2 linked regions of the Homo sapiens genome follow. The protein of the gene in region 1 purifies or fractionates together with the protein of each later gene. This does not show direct contact. Each region holds a gene or a part of one and is shown on either strand. Other genes may lie near its edges. The genes, in order: RERG and ARHGEF17.

Evidence for each region.
Region 2: the proteins of RERG (region 1) and ARHGEF17 purify together in Homo sapiens (affinity purification with mass spectrometry; 2 studies listed by BioGRID and IntAct, with this or other methods). This does not show direct contact.

The regions. Positions count from the first base shown.
Region 1 is NC_000012.12:15,216,007-15,226,500, forward strand, and holds the start of RERG (ras-related and estrogen-regulated growth inhibitor), read right to left. Parts: upstream 5,239-10,494; 5' UTR 5,189-5,238; exon of another isoform or gene 4,662-5,188; intron 1,598-4,661; 5' UTR 1,484-1,597; coding exon 1,423-1,483; intron 1-1,422. Other genes in the region: uncharacterized protein LOC124902886, read left to right, coding at 5,239-5,556. UniProt on the Homo sapiens protein: Binds GDP/GTP and possesses intrinsic GTPase activity. Has higher affinity for GDP than for GTP. In cell lines overexpression leads to a reduction in the rate of proliferation, colony formation and in tumorigenic potential.
Region 2 is NC_000011.10:73,302,286-73,313,226, forward strand, and holds the start of ARHGEF17 (rho guanine nucleotide exchange factor 17), read left to right. Parts: upstream 1-5,990; 5' UTR 5,991-6,353; coding exon 6,354-9,545; intron 9,546-10,941. UniProt on the Homo sapiens protein: Acts as a guanine nucleotide exchange factor (GEF) for RhoA GTPases.

The sequences.
Region 1 (10,494 bases):
TCTGGAATGAAGGAATAAATGGTCAGCCTCAAGCCTAGACCCTGCACTCACAAGGAGTTAGACAAGCTCTTGCTGGCAGTGCACATCTTCTCCCACACTGCCTTCCCTCCATCCTCCACTCACAGGAATCATTTCCTCATTCTCCAGATCCTTCTACCAGCTACAGAAATTAGGTTCTCACGCCATTAGGAAACACTGAGGAGATTAACAGGGAGGAGTTTAACTATCTTCAATCTTGTGAAGGCTGGCAGTTTCTTAGCCTTGCCAACTATCTATTTTCCTTGTGTGGTTTCTGCCAGAGGCAAGAGCAAACCAAACAGAAGAAAATGGTGGTAGCAGGAAAGAGTACTCTTGAGAAAATTAAAAGAAAAACGAGAGACAAAGACTTAGAAGAGGGAAGATTACTGCTGAAATTAAACCAGACAGCAGGTTAGAAAAGAAAGGTTGGTCACAGAATTAAAAAGCAATTATGTGTATTTGTCTAAGATTTTGTGGATTACCTAATGTATTGGATTATACAGTTTATTTCCAAACAGGTTTCCCTCTACAAACATGCACCTACCAGATATCTGTTTGAGTCCTTTCCTGAGAACCAAAAGCTCTGTGTACAGTTAATTATGGTTCCTTCCTCCAGTAAGAGACTAAGGCAAGAGGTTACCCTGAAAGGTCATGCTGCCCTAATGTTTCAGCAACGTTGACTTTGGAATTCTTTAATTATAAGATCGAAGATGTATTTTTCAAATTAGATAGCAGGTACATTTTTCACTTCCACCATTTCACCCTTAATCTTAAAGGTCTGCTAGCGATTTCTCAGATAGTGAACAAAGTCTCTGAATTACTGATGTTAGCCAGAACTTGCTAATTTAAATTCACTGCAGAGGCATTCGCAATAGCTATCTTGCTTGAGAGCATGCACTCCTAAAGTTTCAGGAATCCTCTCAGGATTTTTGAGTGTTTGGCAATAATGCAATTCTGTTTCTGATAAAGCTAGATTCACTTAAGCATTTTTAAAGCACCTAACACATGCTTGACACTGGACTGTTTGCTGAGAATATCAAAATGAATGAGATGTAAAATCAGTCCCTCAAGATCTCATACATAGAGAAAAGAACAAATATATATTTTTTAATTTCCATCATCTGATTTCTTTGGAGGTTGTTAAAAATCAGAATGCCAAGACCTCTGATATATCCTTTATCTTGTGTGTTATCAGCAAAGCTACTTCAGCATAAATAAGCAAAAGGATACGTAACAGTCGATTACGCAAAATAAAAGTTCTAGATGAAGAGACTTTATCTAAAAGAGTAAGAAATGAAAATAGGAGGAATACCAACTACTCACCTGCCCAATCCCAAGAAACAGTAATAAAGAAACACACTCACCCACACACACACACTATAACAACCACAACGAAAATCTTACCTGACTTGCCCACGCCTGCTCTCCCAAATATTGCCAGTTTGACCTCCGCACTTTTAGCCATGATGGGTGTTGGTAGACAATTTACTGTTGTTAAAACTAAAGCACTGAGTAAATCTTTTTGGTTCCAGTCTTTGGATTCACCATATCATTGTGAATCTTGGAAGAGTCCACAATCCTTAAACAAAAGAAATTTGGGAATTCATAAGTGACTGGAAAATGAATTAATATTTATTGAGCATCTACTATATGCCAGCCACCATTCACTTTTTCAACATTTTCTGGTTTGATCTTTACCACTATCCTGTGAGAAGTCTATGGTAACTTACTGTAAATGATTTAACTAATAAATGGTAGATTCAGGACTTGGATTTGGATCTGGTTGGTACTAAAACGTGCATTATCACACACAATAGCATTTCTAAAGTACTTCCTCAAGAAATTTTCTTATGAAGGTATTGATTCTTGATAGTAACTGAAAGTAAAAGTGAATACACACATTTACCATCTATCTGTAAGCATTCAGTGTACAAACACATGCAGTGGGGCAATGGAGAGAGTCACTTTTGGGCCTCTTCATGTCTCTTTGGGTTGAATAACATACATTCATATTAGTCAACTCCAATGCAACACAATTCAATTTTGCATCTCAAAGTTAAATTTTTTCTCAATTCACACTTGATCACATGATGAATTCCTGTGACAGATACAGATACACATGTTCTAGGAATCAATATATAATACATAGATTACATTTCTATATTTTGCTGGACACAATGCCCTGGTACAAAAACGATAAATGCCATGCTCCAAGTTATTCCTTTTCTATGATGACTTCAAGTAAATTTGTTTATAGTGCTGTCTTAAAGCTTGGGAAATAACATTATGTACAAAGTAAGCACATCTTATTTAGTTTGGTGCTTTAGGAGTGACATCTAGGTTCTTAGGATCATGGAAACGTAAATTTGGAAAGAGCTTTGGTGGTGGTGGGGGCTGGAGTGGGGGTCATCTGAAGAAATCTTCTAGCCATTCTTCTAGCAAGAATCTTTCCTTAGGACATAACAATCATTCCATATTCCATGCCTGACTTACCACTTCCAGGTATGAAAGGTGGGCTCATTACTTCTGAAAGCTGCTTCATTTCTCCAATTAGGAGGAACTATCTTTCTAATATTGAGCTCTAAACTGTCTCCCTGCGGCTTCTACTCATTTGTCCTCATTTCTCTCTATGAAATAACTCAAAACAAGTCAACTTTTTCTTTCACTCAGAACCGTTCAAGGATCCTAGCATCTAGTAGGACCCTTTGCTCCATCCTAGGCTTCTTTTTTCTAGGAACATGAGGCCCAGCCTGTCCACTTGTTCTTCCCGGAATGTACACTCTCGTTTATGTTTTTTTGACCTTCACTCCCTTTTTCATCATGTGCATTGCCTCCTCAACATCTTAATCACTCTAAAAGCATGGTGTCCACTGCATTCCACTTTGAGATATGACCTGACAAACTGACCCGGTGTAAATTCCCTGAGATTTTCACTATCGTTAATCTGCCCACCATGGTTATACTGTAGCACAGCCAATCACATTAAGCCTCACATCTTTTACACGGACTGCAGACCCCCTCATTCCGAACATTTGCAATCAATGGCTTAAACCTAAATACAGCACAGCACTTTTACCCGTGTTAATCTTAATCACACCAGTCTGCATAATTCATTCCATTTTCAAGGCAGTAAAGATGTTTTAAACACAAATATGTTATCTAAATGTGTTAAATGTTCCTGCCAGATTTTTCCATCTATAAATTTTTACAAAGAGCTTCTTGAGAGAGAAATTAAAAAGTGAAAATCCGCCTGAAAAAGTATTTCTACAAAGACATTATCATGTAATTGTTTTCTTCCTTAGGTATTTAAGCTATCATCCTGTACCTAATAAGGTTTTGTATTTGCTGATTTTCAAAGTGCCAGAGCTTCCTCTGAAGGAAGGAAAAATCAACATTAACATTAGCTATTGTTTACTTCATCCTCAATAATGACAAAGTGTCTAAGTAATCATTATTAGCAAAAACCAGAAGCTTAAACATCTGCAATTTGTCCAGTCCCATATTTTTGGCTAAAGATAAAAAGATTTCCTTATTTGTCACTTTAGATGCATTCATTAAGAAAAGGCCCTATGTTTTTAAGGTTCAGGGCTTCATCACAGAAACATAATATGTGGAGATATATTAACTATTTAAATTATAAATGAGAAGAGGTGCTGGCAAGTATTTCTTTGAAACATTGAACACGCAAGTGTCTGCAGCTAGTATAAACAATAATTTTGTTTCATGCAAAACTGTTCATATACATGGATATAAAATGCAAGTAATTATCTGTCTGATTAATGTTTCATGAAAGTAGCCATCAAATGTGATTTTAAAAAAATGACAAGTCACATTTTTTAGTAACTCCCAAATGGCCCCAGAGGCATAGGAATTTCACATAAGAAAGAGAAATTGTGTGGGCTATTTTTTCCATTTATAACCTAATAAAGATACAGCTGGTTATTGTCAACCTAATTTTATGTTTAGAAAAATCACTTAAAGGAAGACACAAAACTGACAGGAGTTCTTCAACATTTTATTTCTCACATGAAAATGTGAAAAGTTACATTTGACAAGATAGAAAACAAAAATAAATATGTAAATTGTTGTAATAAGTAAACTGTTGCCAAGTTTCTGATGTTCCAAATAATTCATAATCTGAGAGCTTCCATACGTGGATCTAAGAAAATCCATTTGTCCTAATGTTCTGCTGAAATATTCTGAGTAGGGCTGAAATTTGCCATTCACTTTTTATGTGGATGGTGCTTATTAGGACAAAAACATCTCAGCTGCTATCACTCTAAAGGTAAAATCATACCTATTTAGTTTGAAGGTGTAGGTTTTTTTTTCCCTAAACATAAATTAAAGGAAAAAGGAAAAACGCTAGCTAAAATCCTGTATTATTAGTGATGCATTCATTGATTTATTCCACACTTTCACGCTATGCACATACAAATAAAAGTAGTTCCCTTCGAAGAGCTTACACTCTGTTAGACCTATGATATTTAGATAACTGTAACCTTATTTACTTACTTATTTAAAGAAAGTTTTCATTCCTAATAAATCATTCTCAAGGCTATATTTATCAAGGTTCATGCTTTCTACTTCCTCTTGGGGGTGGGGCAAGCAAGCGTCTTTATAAGGTAATCATGCTTGGAACTTCTGTTTGCATGCGCTCATCAAAATCAAGTGTAGCTATTTAGGGAAGCAAAGACCCTAGTCTAGGCCTGGAAATGAGATTCTCTTCTTTTTTGGCCTCCCCTTCTCTGGTTCTGAAATCAAGTTTTCCTGGTCTCATTACTAGGAATTCTTCCTCTTCTTATCACTACGCAGTACCCACAGCAAACCAGGATAATTGTATAAGCCCCTTGGCTATTTAATGTTGCTCTGAACTCAACAGGTATCTTGCAAGAATAAACAAATCCATTGTGGACTGCAAGTCACTTGCTTTCAGGCTAGGGAGAAAATGCAGCCTTAAGTCAAAAGGGCATTTTCCCTCTCAGCTAGGAGAGCCCTGTCAAGATAGGCTGCTGGTGTTCACATCTCCCTCGCAGCGAACCCCAAAGCCGCCCTGGGAGGAGAACCCGGTGACCAAGAGGACCGACTCAGAGGCCGAGCGCGCTCAGGGCTCGGAATGGGTCTGCAGGAAGTCGTCCCGAAAGAGCTGCCTGGACACGTGCGTGACACTCACCTGTTCACACTCTCCAGGCCAGGAGAGCTACGGTCCTCTGCAAGTTCGGAATGGGTCCCCCAAGATCGCGAAGCCCTCCCACACTGCGCAGCCCAGGCTTCAGGTTGCGTTTGCGAGTTGCTGGGCTGCGGTCGTGGGTGGGACTCGCCGCAGAAGCAAGTGCCAGTGGCCCGGCGGGGGTCTCCTCACTCGCGCTCGCTCCGACTAGCGGCGGAGGGACTGCGGCAGGACGCGAGCTGAGCCCGGCCAAGGCCGCTGCGCTCAGCGGCCAGGATGCTGCAGTGCGGCGCTTCGGCGCCCCCTACTGGGGGCAGGGGCAGGCTCCTCCCGCCGCGCTGCCTCCCAGGCTTGCGAGCTTGGGTCTTTAACGTGCTGCACCCAAGACGGGCTTCCCTTTTTCACTGGTTATTTCCAAGCCTCCAGGCTCCCACCGAAGGGCGGCTTTCCTCGGTCAAAACCTTGCCTAAGAAAGCATCACTACGTGGTGTTTTCTATTCCTTATTTCAAATGATCCTCGCAATATCTCTTTGAAGTATCTTTAATTATCTCCATGATACCCAAGAGGAAACTGAAGGAGAAGGTAACGCAAGGCTAGTAAATGGCTGGAATGAAATCCAGACTGGATTGGGAACTGAGAGATGCTAGGAAAAACAAACAAGGAATTCAATTGAAATTCTATTCATATATTTGAGAAAGTTCCAAAAGCTTCTCGTCCTCCTTACAGGATCAGCATTTATAGGATTTGCATTGGAGTCATACTCCATTATGCTCAGACCCTAACAAAGACAATTAATATGCGAGCTGTGCTGGACCTGCTTTCATATCCCTCATCTGATTTGATTTTTACACCCTCTCTTCATGTAAGAACTAGTATTATAATTACTAGCCTTTCACAGATGAGGAGGTGAGCTTCAGAGAGGCTAAATGATCTCCCAAAAACTGAAACATCTGAGCAAAGAAGCAGGAGGCACTTATGTTATTGTTTTTCCCTTATAAATCTGGGTATTCTTACCAAGATACCAAACGGCTTCCAGAAAACCAGTGTTATATAGAACAGACAGGGGCCTAGGGCAAACTGAACGATCTGTAGAATGTCATCAATGGGAAGGGAGGTAACCATGGAGGCAATTTCCAGAGTCCAGACTGACCTGGAAGGTCACTGCAGCCACGAGTGAATGGCTGAATGGAACAGCTAGATCTATGGCAAAAAGAGGAGTTGCCTAGCTGAGCAGGAGCTGCCCTGCTGGTTCTTTGAGAAAGCTCAAACATTGTATGGTTTATGAGTTTCCTGATCACTAATGTACCCCTCCCTCCACACCACATACATCTGGATTAGATGCCTCCCTCTGTATCTCACAGGACCCTGTGATCTTATCATTGTGTTTGTGTTGTACTCATTTCTGCCCCTTAGTCCTCTCCATTAATCTGTGAGCTCCCAGAAGCCAGGAATGTACCATGTGTGACTTCTGTATTCCCAGCATCATCCATACAGTGTGTATACCTACAGCCTGGCATATAGTAGGTAGTTAAAGAATACCTACTGAATTGAATGAATTAAGATAAAGAAGAAGTTGTGATAGGATATGTTTGAGCTTTTTTACATACTGGATTTAGGATAGACCATCCAGTAAGAAATTGAATGTATGGGGCTGCGACATTTAAGAAAGAGGCCTGGAAAAGAGAGAGACTTTGGTGTCTTAGCATGCAGAAGATCTTTGAAGTCTGGGATGGGATAATAATTACCCAGATTCATTATATAGAATCTTACAGAATTCCAATTACATGGAATCGTGTGGCATTAAGGTGTTCAGGTTTCACATGTTACCTTGTTTCCCCCATTAAATCTTATACTCAGGGCAAGATTTAATAAAAAAAAAAAAATCTGTGACCCTATATCTGTAAATATACTATTTACAGAGACTTGAGTTGGAATTCCCACTTTGCCACTCTTATTTAATAAGAGTTATTGACCAGCCTGGGCAACATGGGTAGAGACAGCGTCTCTACTAAAAATACAAAAAATTAGCCAGGCGTGGTGGCACGCATCTGTAATCCCAACACTTTGGGAGGCTGAGATGGGCGGATCACCTGAGGTCAGAAGTTCGAGACCAGCCTGGCCAACGTGGTGAAACCCCATCTCTACTAAAAATATAAAAATTAGCCAGGCGTTGTGGAAGGAGCCTGTAATCCCAGCTACTCCAGAGGCTGAGGCAAGAGAATCACTTGAACCCCAGAGGCGGTGGTTGTAACAAGCCAAGATCGTGCCATTGCACTCCAGCCTAGGTGACAAAAAGAGACTCTGTCTCAAGAAAAAAATAATAATAGTAAGTTTTCGAAGAGGGCCCAAGCCAGGTCCCATTTGTAGTAGTTCTTTTGGAACTTGCCTATGGAACCTGATTCTCTCCATTTTCCTGCTTAGCCCATATAACAACAGCATTCCTCCCTCAACTAGGGAGGCATTTGCATACACATCTGCAGTTCTTGATGTGCTGCTCTAAGATAGATGAAGTAGCTATCTTGGAGCCTGACTCCCACTGTGTTACATCTTCCGTATGTATCCTATATTCTGCGGGCTGCTTCCTTTGTCTCTAAAGCAGCAAAAAGAGGCACGCTCTCTTGTGCTGCCTGCCTCATGGATCAGTAAGAAGGGCAGAGGACACTTTGTACTTACGGTTCCATGACATATGTTTGCTGGGCAAGAATTCTCCTGGGGAAAGGGGAAGTCCTTGTCACATTCAAGTCTCTTAGCCTGGCCTTAGGCTTCAGCTAAAACCTCTAACACAAAACAAGTAGACGAAGTGTTGATATAACCACAAAGCATGTTAGAAACTGGAATTGTGTGTGTGTATGTCTGTGTAGCTGTTAATCATGTTTGTTATAAATAATTCAAACAGTAGAAAAATACAAAGATGTAGAAAATCATCCCCAGAATCACACTATCCAGAAATAATAACCATTGTTAACATAAGGGGACCATCATCATTCCAGATATTGTAGAAAACAGACATCCTGATGGACAGGTATGTGAAATGGCACAGATATGCTAAGTGTCATCATCCTGTAGATGCTATTTTTAATTTAAAAGTACACTTAATGAAGCAGAAGATAACAAAATTAAAGTGAACATTAAAGGCTGACCAAACTTTAGATATTTACTCACTTCATGAGATAGTCACTTACTTCATGAGATATTCACCCTAAAGATTCCTTTACAGTTTGAATTATTACATAAAACCAGATCTGAATTCATTATGCTTAAACATATATTTGTTTTAGTCAATATCAACTGACTGTTTGCTATTTAAAAAGAAGAAAATAGCTCTTTTATTATGTCTCTTTTTTTCTTCCCTCCTTCTATATTTTTACACAGGTTTCGTTTGTTCATTGTCAAGATTTGTAACATTCACTTTCCACTTATAACTCTCATTCCCAAAGTGGTTTAAACTTAGTTCTATATTTAAATAGAATAAATTTCTTTCATTGATTCTTTTATCATGTTTTTTCTATTATTGATTATTTTGATTCATCCCTTGATATCTTCATTAAGCAATGTTTTCAAGAAGGTCTTGCAGGTGCTGTATTGTATAATTGAGAATACCTGTTTCTTCCTTTTCTTGTTGTTTTTAAATTTGTTATTAGCCTACTTTTGCTTACAATGACCTTCTCCTCCTTTTTTTTCCTGTGTAGTGTGTTTTTATATTTATTATTGGTTTCTTTTTTAGATCAAGACTCATATTTGCTATGATACAAATTCAGTTAATTGTGCTTGACTTCATTCCTACCTTGTCTGAGGCCTGTTTGTTTTTTCTATAAAGCAATGGTTTGAAGGTGAGCATTGCATTCTGTCTACCATCCCGAGATGAGAAGGTGAGGGCTTCTGAGTCTCTGTGCAGCCTCTGAGAGAGGTTACATGCTCTGCTTTTGTTCTCAGGTTTTACTAAAGACTCTGTCTCAGGATTTAATGCAGGCCATCAGGATCACATACTGTTTCAGAAAGATTCCCTTAAGCCTGAGATTGCACTCTTCATTCATTCTTGGAGCCCTCTACTCTCTCTCCCAAGCCATTTCTACTATGACTACTCACTCTGCCCTCTCCTCCCATCAGAAAAGGGTAAGTGTAGTTGCTCAGTTCATTTCACTCCAAATTTGCAGACATTCTTAACTGGTGAGAAATAATACTTACGATTTGATCACTCATCAGTACTGCTTCTGGAAAGCCAGGACTTTCTATATCATGATCGTTTATTTTCTTTATTTCATTTTGAAGTTACATGGCAAGAAATTATACTCATTTCCTTATTTTGTTGCTACTAATGATTATCTTTTGACTTTGGGATGAGTATTTAATTGCTGTTACCATTTATTTAGTTAAATATTAGGCAAAGGCAAGACTGATTTTAGCTGAGATTGAACTTTCCTGTTTACTGGGAACAACTATAAAGGCTAACCAAAATATACAAAATAGCTGTTTGGAAGCATTGGCAAACAACCAAGGCAGGGCTGCACATCTGACAGAGGGGATGTACTGGAGTTTAGCCTCACAGGCACACAAATTTTCTTGTTGGGGGCATTTTAAGGGCCCATATCCATGAAAGTGAAGCCCAAACATCAGTGAGAGATTAGGGTTCAGGGCTACTAAAGCAACTGGGTTCAGAAGGCTATCAGAAAGGGCAGCAGCCACGGAGACAGAAGCTCAGATATTTGCATGGAAATGTCCCTAGGATCTTGGCTAATTTCAGGGCTGCACATTGCGTGGTGAGTCTCTGAGACATCTGGTAAACATCATCACTGGCCATCAGAGAAATGCAAATCAAAACCACAATGAGATAACATCTCACACAAAACCACAATGAGATACCATCTCACACCACTTAGAATGGCAATCATTAAAAAGTCAGGAAACAACAGGTGCTGGAGAGGATGTGGAGAAATAGGAACACTTTTACACTGTTGGTTGGACAGTAAACTAGTTCAACCATTGTGGAAGTCAGTGTGGCGATTCCTCAGGGATCTAGAACTAGAAATACCATTTGACCCAGCCATCCCATTACTGGGTATATACCCAAAGGACTATAAATCTTGCTGCTATAAAGACACATGCACACGTATGTTCATTGTGGCATTATTCACAATAGCAAAGACTTGGAACCAACCCAAATGTCCGACAATGATAGACTGGATTAAGAAAATGTGGCACATATACACCATGGAATACTATGCAGCCATAAAAAATGATGAGTTCATGTCCTTTGTAGGGACATGGATGGAATTGGAAATCATCATTCTCAGTGAACTATCGCAAGAAC
Region 2 (10,941 bases), on another chromosome or scaffold:
TCATGAAAGAAAGAGTGGGAAGAGGGGAGTCGTTCTGGGAACTCCAAGATTAGGGAGCTGAGGAGAAGGAGCCACAGACGTGGAGGGCAGGAGCCCAGGGGTCTCTGAATGATGGTGGTATGAGGGGAGAGTGGAGCTGGGTGAGTGAGTGAGAGGTTTCAGGGAAGGAAGTAGGGGTAGTAGGCGGAGAAGAGAAGAGGGAGAAAGATTCCAAGAAAGGCCAGGCCCAGGGATGGAGTTTCCAGGACAAAGTTGTTGCTGAGAGTTGGCTGGTGGCAGTTGAGGGCAGAGAACCCGGGTGGGGTGGGGGTGGGGAGGTAGGAGCAAGGATTGGGAAGCTAGAAAGTCGGGAATCAGTGACTGTCTTGGGGAAATTTCCATTCCAAACAGGAAAAGCCCAGGAGCATTTGATCTGTCCTAGCAATGGACAAAGCTGGCCTCTTCCTCCCTCATTCATTTGTTCAATGAATATTGACTCTGTGTTTCTGAGACGAGCTCAGGTCCAGGCCCTAGTCTTGGGAAAGAATCCAAGGGGTTTGGGATGCAGACAAGGAAACAGTTCATCCAGTAAACAATACTTATTGGGCACCTCCTATATGCCAAGCATCATGCTGGGCCCTCAGGGAGCCCCTAGTCTGATGGAGGAGACAGGTAATAATGAAACATATACAGACCTGGATCATTACAGCTGGGGAAGAGAGCTCAGATCATAAAGAGGACCCAGGCAAGGAAGGTATCACTAGGGAGATGATGAGCTCCTGGAATGGTCCATGGCCAAGAAATGCTAAATACCAGAGGGGCCCTGACCTAGTTGAGGGGCAGAAAATGTATCTGAGTGAGGCCTAGAGCCTCAGAAGGCCTCAGAAGGCATTAGCTCAGTGCAGAAGGGCTGCAACAGAGTCTGTGACTTTGACCAAGCACCTTCACTCCTCTGAGCCTCTGTTTCCTTACCTGTAAAATACTAGACCTTCCTAAGCCACCAGGGATACCGAGGAATAGAAAAGTTAGAGCAGAAATTTCATAAAGTACTAAACATACTATAACCCAATAGAAAAATGAGCAAGAGGCACAAATAAGCACTTCATATGAAAGGAAACACAAGGCCAGGCGTGGTGGCTCATGCCTGTAATCCTAGCATTTTGGGAGGCTGAGATGGGCGGATCACAATGTCAGGAGTTTGAGACCAGCCTGACCAACATGGTGAAACCTTGTGTCTACTAAAATATAAAAATTAGCTGGGCGTGGTGGCATGCACCTGTAATCCCAGCTACTTGGGAGGCTGAGGCAGGAGAATTGCTTGAACCTGGGAGGCAGAGATTGCAATGAGCCAAGATCACACCATTGCACTCCAGCCTGGGCAATAAGAGAGAAACTCCGTCTCAAAAAAAAAAAAAAAAAAAAAAAAGGAAACACAGATGATTAAAAAACATAGACGAGAAATTAGATCCCAGCTTGACAATGCTTCCCAATGTTGATCAATTGCCTGCCCTATGCCCAAGCACTTCTGTCCATGTGTACCTGGAGTCATGCACAATGCTCAGCAAACACCTGGAAACACCCAAATGTGCATCAGCAAGACACTGGATCAACACACTGTGATATAGTCACACACTGAAATAGTCCACATGGCCAGAATGGAGTATAGAGGCATGCAACAATATGGGTAAATCTTTTCTTAATATTAAGAAAAAAGAAGTCCCAACAAATTTTGTAAAGCAAGAAACCCCCCTCCTTTTTTTTTTTTTTTTTTGAGACAGTCTTGCTCTGTTGCCCAGGCTGGAGTGCAGTGGTGTGATCTTGGCTCACTGCAACCTCCACCTCCTGGGTTCAAGTGATTCTCCTGCCTCAGCCTCCCAAGAAGCTGGGATTATAGGCATGCACCACCACGCCTGGCTAATTTTTGTATTTTTAACAGAGGCTGGGTTTCACCATGTTGGCCAGGCTGGTCTTGAACTCCTGGCCTCAAGCAATCCACCCGCCTCAGCCTCCCAAAGTGTTGGGATTACAGGCGTGAGCCACCACGTCCAGCAGGATGCCTTTTTTTTTTTTATAAAGTTAAGAACAACTAAAATGAAAAGATATAGTTTGAAGGAATATATAGTTTGAAGGAATATGTTTGAAGGAAAGCAAGAGAATGCTGAACACAGGATTTGAGATGATGATTTTCTGATTTTCTGTGTGGTGGGACAGCAGGAGGATGGGAGCAGAAGAACTGTATAATGAGATGTGAATTATTTTAAAGGTCCTAGTTGTATTGTTTTGTTTTTTGGCGAAAGCCAATTAAATAACTGATGAGAATGTATCATTATCAAAATATTATAAAGAATTTAATCCTGTGTGCTTAAGGTCTAATTATATAGGAAAGGGGGCAATCTCAGATAGTTTCTATTTGGCTTTGCAATGGAGTCAGAAGAGTCAGATTTCCCCCTAAGACAGCTCCTTCATGGAGCTCATTGCTTCTTGTCCCCGCACTCATCATTTCTCTCCCTCTTAAGTACAGTTGCTCCTCGACTTACGATGAGGTTACATCCCAATAAACCCACTGAAAATATTATAAGTCAAAAAGACATTTAATACACCTAGCCTACCAAACATCAGAGCTTAGCCTAACCCACCTTAAACAGGCCCAGAACACTTCCATAGCCTAGAGTTGGACAAAAATCATCTAACACAAAGCCTATTTTATAATAAAATGCTGAATATCTCATGTAATTTATTGAATACTGAAAGTGAAAAACAGAATGATTATATGTGTGCTCAAAGTATGGTTTCTACTGGATGTACATAGCTTTTGCATCATCATAAAGTCAAAAAATCATTAAGTTGAAATATCATGAGCTGGGGACTTATCTGTACCCGAAGCCCACCAAAGCCCATCACTGGCCATGACCTGTGACCTTCAAAACCTTCCCATCTTGATTTCCCCAAGGGATTCCACGGTCCTCACCTCACTAGATCACCATGACTCACTGGGTAGATGGGCTATTGTTTTCATTACCCTTTCATAGGTGAGGAGCCTGGGGCCCAGAGAAAAGGGGGTGAGCTGCGGAAGGTGAGCCTGGCTTCAAAACCCCAGCGTAGGGTTTCTCTCCACTCTGGTGCCCAGTGCTCCCAGCCCCCTATCAAATAAGTCTTCTTGGGGCTAAAAATTGCTGTACATAATTACCAAGCACCATTAAAATTCCAGATCTCTTCTGTTCATGGAAGATAACTTTGTCTTATACTGGATCATAAGGAGCTGGGGGTGGGAGGGTTCCTGAAGCACTGGAAGCAATCAAGCCACTCTCAGATTGGGTGAGCTTCCCTTTGGACAGAGACCCAGTCTAGATCCTTAAACACCCCCCTCCCCACCAAGGGGATTCCTGAGCCAAAGGCCCCAGCCAGCTCACCTCAAGGCCAAGCCACAGGACTCTGGGAGCCCATGACCTGAACCTCCACTCCTCTCTATCCACTTGCCCATCTGTGATATGGGATAAGGGTTTCTGTCCCAGAACTGACAGGGAGGTGGAAAAGTACAAATTTCAGATAGTAAGAGTCATCATTATGGGGGGAGAGAGTGACTCCTGGGATGAGAGTCCTGTCCCCCACCCCTCCACAACCCACCCCTCCACAACTCACCCCTCCACAACTCACCCCTCCCCAACTCACCCCTCCACAACTCACCCCACAGCACACACCAAAACTTGCCCCAAAGAGCAGAAAGAAAATACTAAAGGAGGTGAGAGTCTGACATCAAATGCCAGAGCCAGAGAGGGCACTCTTGGGGAACCTGAACCACTCCTCACTTTTCAGACACCCCACTCCTCACTTTTCAGACACCAGCAAGTGCAGGGATTTACCCAAGGTCACAGAGTAAGGCCGAACAGAGAGGCACAGGCCAGCAGGGCTCTCTTTTATCAATTTCCTAGAGAAAAGGGAGAGATTTACTCCTTGGCCCCCTTGAGGCAGAGCTGAGATGAGGTTGAGGTGAGGGACTCCCTGGATGCTGGTCTCAACACAGAGAGGAAGCACTTTCTTGCTACAGAGATATTCCACAACTCAAGAGGCTGCCCAGAGAGTGGAGAGTGACCTCCTCATCCTGTGGGGTATATGAGTAGCAAGCAGGTTCTGGAGTCCCGGCTGAGTCCTCTCTCTCTCATTCGGTAGTCAGGCAATCCCTGGGTGTCTACCATCCTTTCCTATCCTCCTGCCTGCCCCTCTCCTCTGAACCCCGTCTCCTAGCCTAGTCTGGCCCAGCTACATCTCCTTGGCTGGACCTGGTGGCAGTGGGGTTGGCTGGGTAATGCACAGACTGCTGACCTAACTATGTGTCCCCGAGGCCTTGCTACTGGGGGTTGGAGGGGCCAGGGCAGTTTGACCAGGCCTGAAGAAGGCTGGGCAGCGCTGGAGGGGCATGGGTCAGACCAGGTTATCCTCTGTTCCTGAGGAGAGTGAGCTCAGGCCCAAGGAGGAGAAGGAGGAGACTGGGGGCTCAAAGGAACGAGAACCTCCTTCTTCATCAGGATTTGGGGGTGCATCTCAGAGCTGGCTGGAGGAGCATGGTGTTTGAAGCCCCTGAAATCTGAATTTTAGCAGGAGCTGCTATTTCCTGACTTGCATAGTGGTCAAAGTTACTTCTCCTTCACGGTCCACAGAGAAGGGGTAATAATATTTGTCCCCAAGGGTGGTTTGTGGATTTTAAAAAATAAGTTAAATAATATTGCCCATACATTATAGGTACTCCATACATTTTCATTCGTTCGTTCATTCGTTAGTTGGGCCGGGAGGATGAATGGGATCTAGAGGCAGGTGGGAATGCGGAAGGGGATGATGCCCCAATACCGAGAACAATGTGAGACTCAGACGGAGGCAGGGGCGGGAGGGGAGCTCAAGCGAGGGATCAGCGTGAAGCCAGAGAAACAACCGACACTTTTCCTGCCAAGAAGGTGAAGCAGCTGCGGGTAAGAGTATAGGTTTGGCAGTGGGAAGTCGAGGGCGTTCCCGTCGAAGCTCCTTTTGTGTATAAGGCCTAAGAAGGGGCAGTGCGCTTTGCGAAGGTCTGAAAAAGACTAAGGGGATTAGGTAACGACTGAAAGGAAGTTTTCACAACTCTCCGTTTTTGGGGGATGGGTGCTGCTTTATCCGTCCAGGACTCCGTGCGTTGGGAAAATCACGCCGCGAGGGGGCGCAAGAGCCGCGTACTCCAGAGCAAGAAGAAAAGGCTCGGGGATCCAGGCGGAGAGTCCAGGAGAAGAGCCGCCAGACTGCAGGGGCAGGTGGAAGGCGTGGCAGCTGGAAAAGTAGGGGTGGGGGCGCGGTCGTGAAGGGTGGGACTTCTGGAGCAACGCTGGGCGGGTTGGGGGCCGGTCGGAGCCGGACAGGCGGCTGGGAGGTGGGATGGGCGGGGCGCTTGGGAGCGAGATGGGGGGACAAGGGCGTGGCTACAGCTAAATTCGCCGCAGAGGGCGGGCGGGGAGGGGGAGGGAAGGGGAGGAGGCGTGGCCTGGGCGGGGAGTAGGGCGCGACGGACCCTTCAGTTAGCCCGCGGCTCCCCGGGCTCTCCCTGGCGCCGAGTCCCACCCCTTTCCCGGCCCAGAGAGTGTGCGTCTGCGTGCACCTGAGTGTCAGTGTGTACGAGAGTTTGTGAGTCCGAGGTTGCCATGTTGGAGCCCCTGGGCAGGAGGTGTTTCCGCGCGGAGGCTGGTGGCCCGCGGTGGACGCGGCGCCCTGGCTGCGAGTCTGCGGAGCTGAGCACGCTCAGCGGTTGTGTGTGTCTCAGCGACTCCCTGGGGGCAGCTCGGCCTGCTGGGCTCCCGAGGGACCTCTCTGGAGGGCCAGAGGGTCGCCTCAGTCTGCAAGTCCTCCAGCAGGCTTTTTCTTCTTCGGCTCCTCCCTGATTCCCTCCCACCACGCGGTTCCCAGGCTCGCGCACGCCCGGAGCCCACCCCCTCTTTTGGGCGCGAGGCCCCGCCCCCCGCCCCCTTGCCTCTGCCGCAAAGTTTATTTGCAACAAAAGGGTGCCAGGAGCGAGCAGCCAAGGGCGTTGGGCAGGCGGACGCAGAGTCGAGGAACCAAGCGCTGGGATCCCGCCCAGGCGGTGCCGCGGTGCCCCTGGTCGCTCCAGCCGCGGCGGGGGCTGGGCCTGGGGGTCGGCGCTGAGGCGGGAGGGGCCGCCCGGGATGGAGACGTTGCGGCCGGTGGCCACAGAAACTTGAGCCGCGGCAGAGAAACCTCTGCTCCGGTCTCTGCGTCCTCTTCCCACACTCCCGTGCGCTGCTTTCGGCGTGGGCCGCTGCGCTCCTAGGGAGTGGGGGCGCAGGGGGGGTTGGCCGCGGCTGCCCGAGGCCAGCCCCCCCGGAGTGAGTTACGCCACTATGGCGGACGGGGCACCCCGGCCCCAGCTTTACCGCAGCGTCTCGTTCAAGCTGCTGGAGCGCTGGAGCGGCGGCCCCGGGCTGAGGGAGGAGGACACGGACACCCCCGGCTTGAGGCGACGCGCCTCGTGCCGGCCGACCACGGCTGCCCGGGGCCAGCCCTCTCGGCGCGTGTCCAAGCTGGCGTCTGGGCCCCTGGCCGCCCCCGCGCAGCCGCGCCCGCTCCGCAGCCTCTCGCCGTCGGTTCGCCAGCTCTCCCGGCGCTTCGACGCGCCGCGTCTGGACGACGGCTCCGCTGGGACCCGAGACGGAGGCGTCTTACCCGCGGCCGCGGAAGAAGCGGCCGAGGGCCCAGCGCGAGGAGCCTGGCCCAGCGTCACCGAGATGCGCAAGCTCTTCGGCGGTCCTGGCTCCAGGAGGCCCAGCGCCGACTCTGAATCCCCAGGAACGCCCAGCCCCGACGGTGCCGCGTGGGAGCCTCCGGCTCGGGAGTCGCGGCAGCCACCGACGCCACCCCCTCGGACATGCTTCCCCCTGGCGGGTCTGCGTTCGGCGCGGCCCCTGACCGGGCCGGAGACCGAAGGGAGGCTGCGCCGGCCGCAGCAGCAACAGGAGCGGGCGCAGCGTCCAGCGGATGGTTTACATTCTTGGCATATCTTCTCCCAACCGCAGGCCGGGGCCCGGGCCTCCTGCTCCTCCTCCTCCATCGCCGCCTCCTATCCTGTCAGCCGCAGTCGTGCTGCCAGCTCCAGCGAGGAGGAAGAGGAGGGCCCGCCGCAGCTGCCTGGAGCCCAGAGTCCGGCCTACCACGGCGGCCACTCCTCGGGCAGTGACGACGACCGAGACGGTGAGGGCGGCCACCGCTGGGGAGGGAGGCCCGGGCTCAGGCCTGGAAGCTCCCTATTGGATCAGGACTGCAGGCCTGACAGTGATGGGTTAAATCTAAGCAGCATGAACTCAGCAGGGGTTTCTGGGAGCCCTGAGCCCCCAACATCTCCAAGAGCCCCTAGAGAAGAAGGACTCCGGGAGTGGGGTAGTGGCTCTCCGCCCTGCGTCCCAGGTCCCCAGGAGGGACTTCGGCCTATGTCTGACTCTGTGGGAGGAGCTTTCCGTGTGGCCAAGGTGAGCTTTCCCTCGTACCTGGCCAGCCCCGCAGGCTCCCGCGGTAGCAGCCGTTATTCCAGCACGGAGACCCTCAAGGACGACGACCTATGGTCTAGTAGGGGTTCTGGGGGCTGGGGCGTGTACCGCTCCCCTAGCTTTGGAGCTGGGGAAGGGCTCCTGCGGTCCCAGGCTCGAACCCGTGCCAAAGGACCTGGAGGCACCTCTAGGGCATTGAGGGATGGAGGATTTGAGCCTGAAAAGAGTCGACAGCGGAAGTCCCTGTCAAATCCAGATATCGCCTCAGAGACCCTGACGCTTCTCAGTTTCCTGCGCTCAGACCTTTCAGAGCTGAGGGTCCGAAAACCTGGTGGGAGCTCCGGGGACCGTGGAAGCAACCCCCTAGATGGCAGAGACTCACCATCCGCAGGTGGCCCTGTGGGGCAACTTGAACCCATACCCATCCCAGCCCCAGCATCACCTGGCACGCGCCCCACACTCAAGGACTTGACAGCCACTCTGCGGAGAGCAAAGTCATTCACCTGCTCTGAGAAGCCCATGGCCCGCCGCCTGCCCCGCACCAGTGCTCTGAAGTCCAGCTCCTCCGAGCTCCTGCTCACAGGCCCTGGTGCCGAGGAGGATCCGCTGCCCCTCATCGTCCAGGACCAATATGTGCAGGAGGCCCGCCAGGTTTTTGAGAAGATCCAGCGCATGGGTGCCCAACAAGATGATGGAAGCGATGCCCCCCCTGGAAGCCCTGACTGGGCAGGGGATGTGACCCGAGGGCAGCGGTCCCAGGAGGAGCTCTCAGGCCCTGAGTCCAGTCTGACAGATGAAGGCATTGGGGCAGACCCTGAGCCTCCTGTTGCAGCATTTTGCGGCCTGGGTACCACAGGGATGTGGCGACCTCTTTCCTCATCCTCGGCCCAGACGAACCACCATGGCCCTGGGACTGAGGACAGTCTGGGCGGGTGGGCCCTGGTGTCGCCTGAGACCCCTCCCACACCAGGTGCCCTCCGCCGACGACGCAAAGTCCCACCTTCAGGTTCTGGTGGGAGCGAATTGAGCAATGGGGAGGCAGGGGAGGCCTACAGGTCCCTGAGTGACCCAATTCCTCAGCGCCACCGGGCTGCCACCTCTGAAGAGCCTACTGGGTTCTCTGTGGACAGCAACCTCCTGGGCTCACTGAGCCCCAAGACAGGGCTCCCTGCCACCTCAGCCATGGATGAGGGCTTGACCAGTGGTCACAGTGACTGGTCTGTGGGCAGTGAAGAGAGCAAGGGATATCAGGAGGTTATTCAGAGCATAGTTCAGGGGCCTGGCACCCTGGGGCGTGTGGTGGACGACAGGATTGCTGGCAAAGCCCCCAAGAAGAAATCCCTGAGTGACCCCAGCCGCCGTGGGGAGCTGGCTGGGCCTGGATTCGAGGGCCCTGGAGGGGAGCCCATCCGAGAAGTTGAGCCCATGCTGCCTCCATCCAGCAGCGAGCCCATCCTTGTAGAGCAGCGGGCAGAGCCAGAAGAACCTGGTGCCACCAGGAGCCGGGCACAGTCTGAAAGGGCCCTACCTGAGGCTCTGCCTCCCCCTGCCACTGCCCACCGAAACTTTCACCTTGACCCCAAGCTGGCTGACATTCTGTCCCCGAGGCTAATCCGCCGAGGCTCCAAGAAGCGCCCAGCTCGGAGTAGTCACCAGGAGCTTCGGAGAGACGAGGGCAGTCAGGACCAGACTGGCAGCCTGTCTCGGGCCCGGCCCTCCTCCAGACACGTTCGCCATGCCAGTGTGCCCGCCACATTTATGCCTATTGTGGTGCCTGAGCCACCAACTTCTGTTGGTCCCCCTGTGGCTGTGCCAGAACCCATAGGCTTCCCTACCCGAGCCCATCCCACGTTGCAGGCACCATCGCTCGAGGACGTCACCAAGCAGTACATGCTGAACCTGCACTCCGGTGAGGTCCCTGCCCCAGTGCCAGTGGACATGCCCTGCTTGCCTCTGGCTGCACCGCCCTCTGCTGAGGCCAAGCCCCCTGAGGCAGCTCGGCCTGCAGATGAGCCTACCCCTGCCAGCAAGTGCTGCAGCAAGCCACAGGTGGTGAGTCCTTTGTAGGGGCCTTCAGATTGGGGCCAAAGAAGGGCCATGGGCACCGACTTCGGTTGGAGCCTTTTGCATTGTATTCACTGGTCAGGTGCCCAGGTGCCAAGGGTGCTTTTCTGGTCCTGGAAGTGCCTGTGCAGTTTTAAGAGTTGTTAATGACACAGGGCTCCTGTCTACTCAGGCCCTGTAGAAGCTTCAGTTTTCTGCTGGTGCTAATGGCAAAGGGTCTTGTCTGCTCCAGGTGTTCTGGGTGGTAATTACAAAGGATTCTTATCTTGTCCTTTGGATGTTTCTCAGGGACTGGTTTTGGAAATCCCTGTGTGGTTCTTTGTTGGAGGGATGAGTGTGATGGCACCCAGCGCAGGCTCAGTCCTTTCTCTGAGGCTTGCTACTCTGTTGGCCAGACCCTTGATAGGATGTTTGGCTCAGGGGCCACAGTTGACATGGGTTTGCCCTTCTTCGTGTGGCTTTCCTGTGACAGGTCAGAATATAGATGTGTTCCTGGGCCTGGGAGAATTGGGGAGGTACAAGGCTTTACTTTATGGAGGAGCAGAGGGGGCTCAGGGTTCTAACTGCAGTTCTGTTCTTGCTGTGTGACATTGGCCTTTCTCTGTGACTTAATCTCCCCAATCAGGGGAGATAGGTGGACAAACTAGTGCCTATGTTTCCATCCAGCTGGTACTGTGCAGATTTGGGGGAGCCTGCGGTTTTGAGTTGGGGACTCTTGGGGCCTGAGTTCTGCCAGAGCCTCCTCAGATGAAAAAAGCTTCTAGATGGGGGCTTCTAGGGGAGGATAGAGGCAGGGAGGGGGCTGCAGAGGCTGGGCAGCCAGGGCCCTTTAGAGAGGTCAGGAGTGGTTCTGGGCCCCATATTCAGGGCTGCCTCTATGGGTCTGGGGGGTCGGTTCTTGTTCCCCCATCCTGTCTGCTTGCATCTTTTCCCCACTCTACCCCCTTCTTGGTGACTCTGAGATGCACCCCGTTTCTGCCAGACCCCCAGCCCTGGGGGCTCACTCTCCCTGAGACCCCTCCTTCTACCTTCTGGCTTCAGCTATCCCTGGAGTTTAGGCTGTGGATTCAGATGGGATCCAGATGGCATATGCCCTGGCATCTGGGTTGGGAGCTAGATTCCAGGCTGTGGATTCTGAGCTGAGCTCAGCGATGGCCAGTGGTTACTTCAACTGTGGCCTGCGCTCCCACTGCGCTCCCTGACTGTGTGAGAAGCCTGGAAATTATAAACCCTGGACTGATTCAGTCACTCCCTTTCCCAGCACTCTCATGGCCCCTCTGAACTCCCTTTCTCTTTGTTTCTCTCTCCTTGTCTCCAGTTACCCCTGGTCCTGGCTCTGGGGTTTCTCATGGAGGCTGCAGAGAGAGCAGGCAGGGAGTGGGGA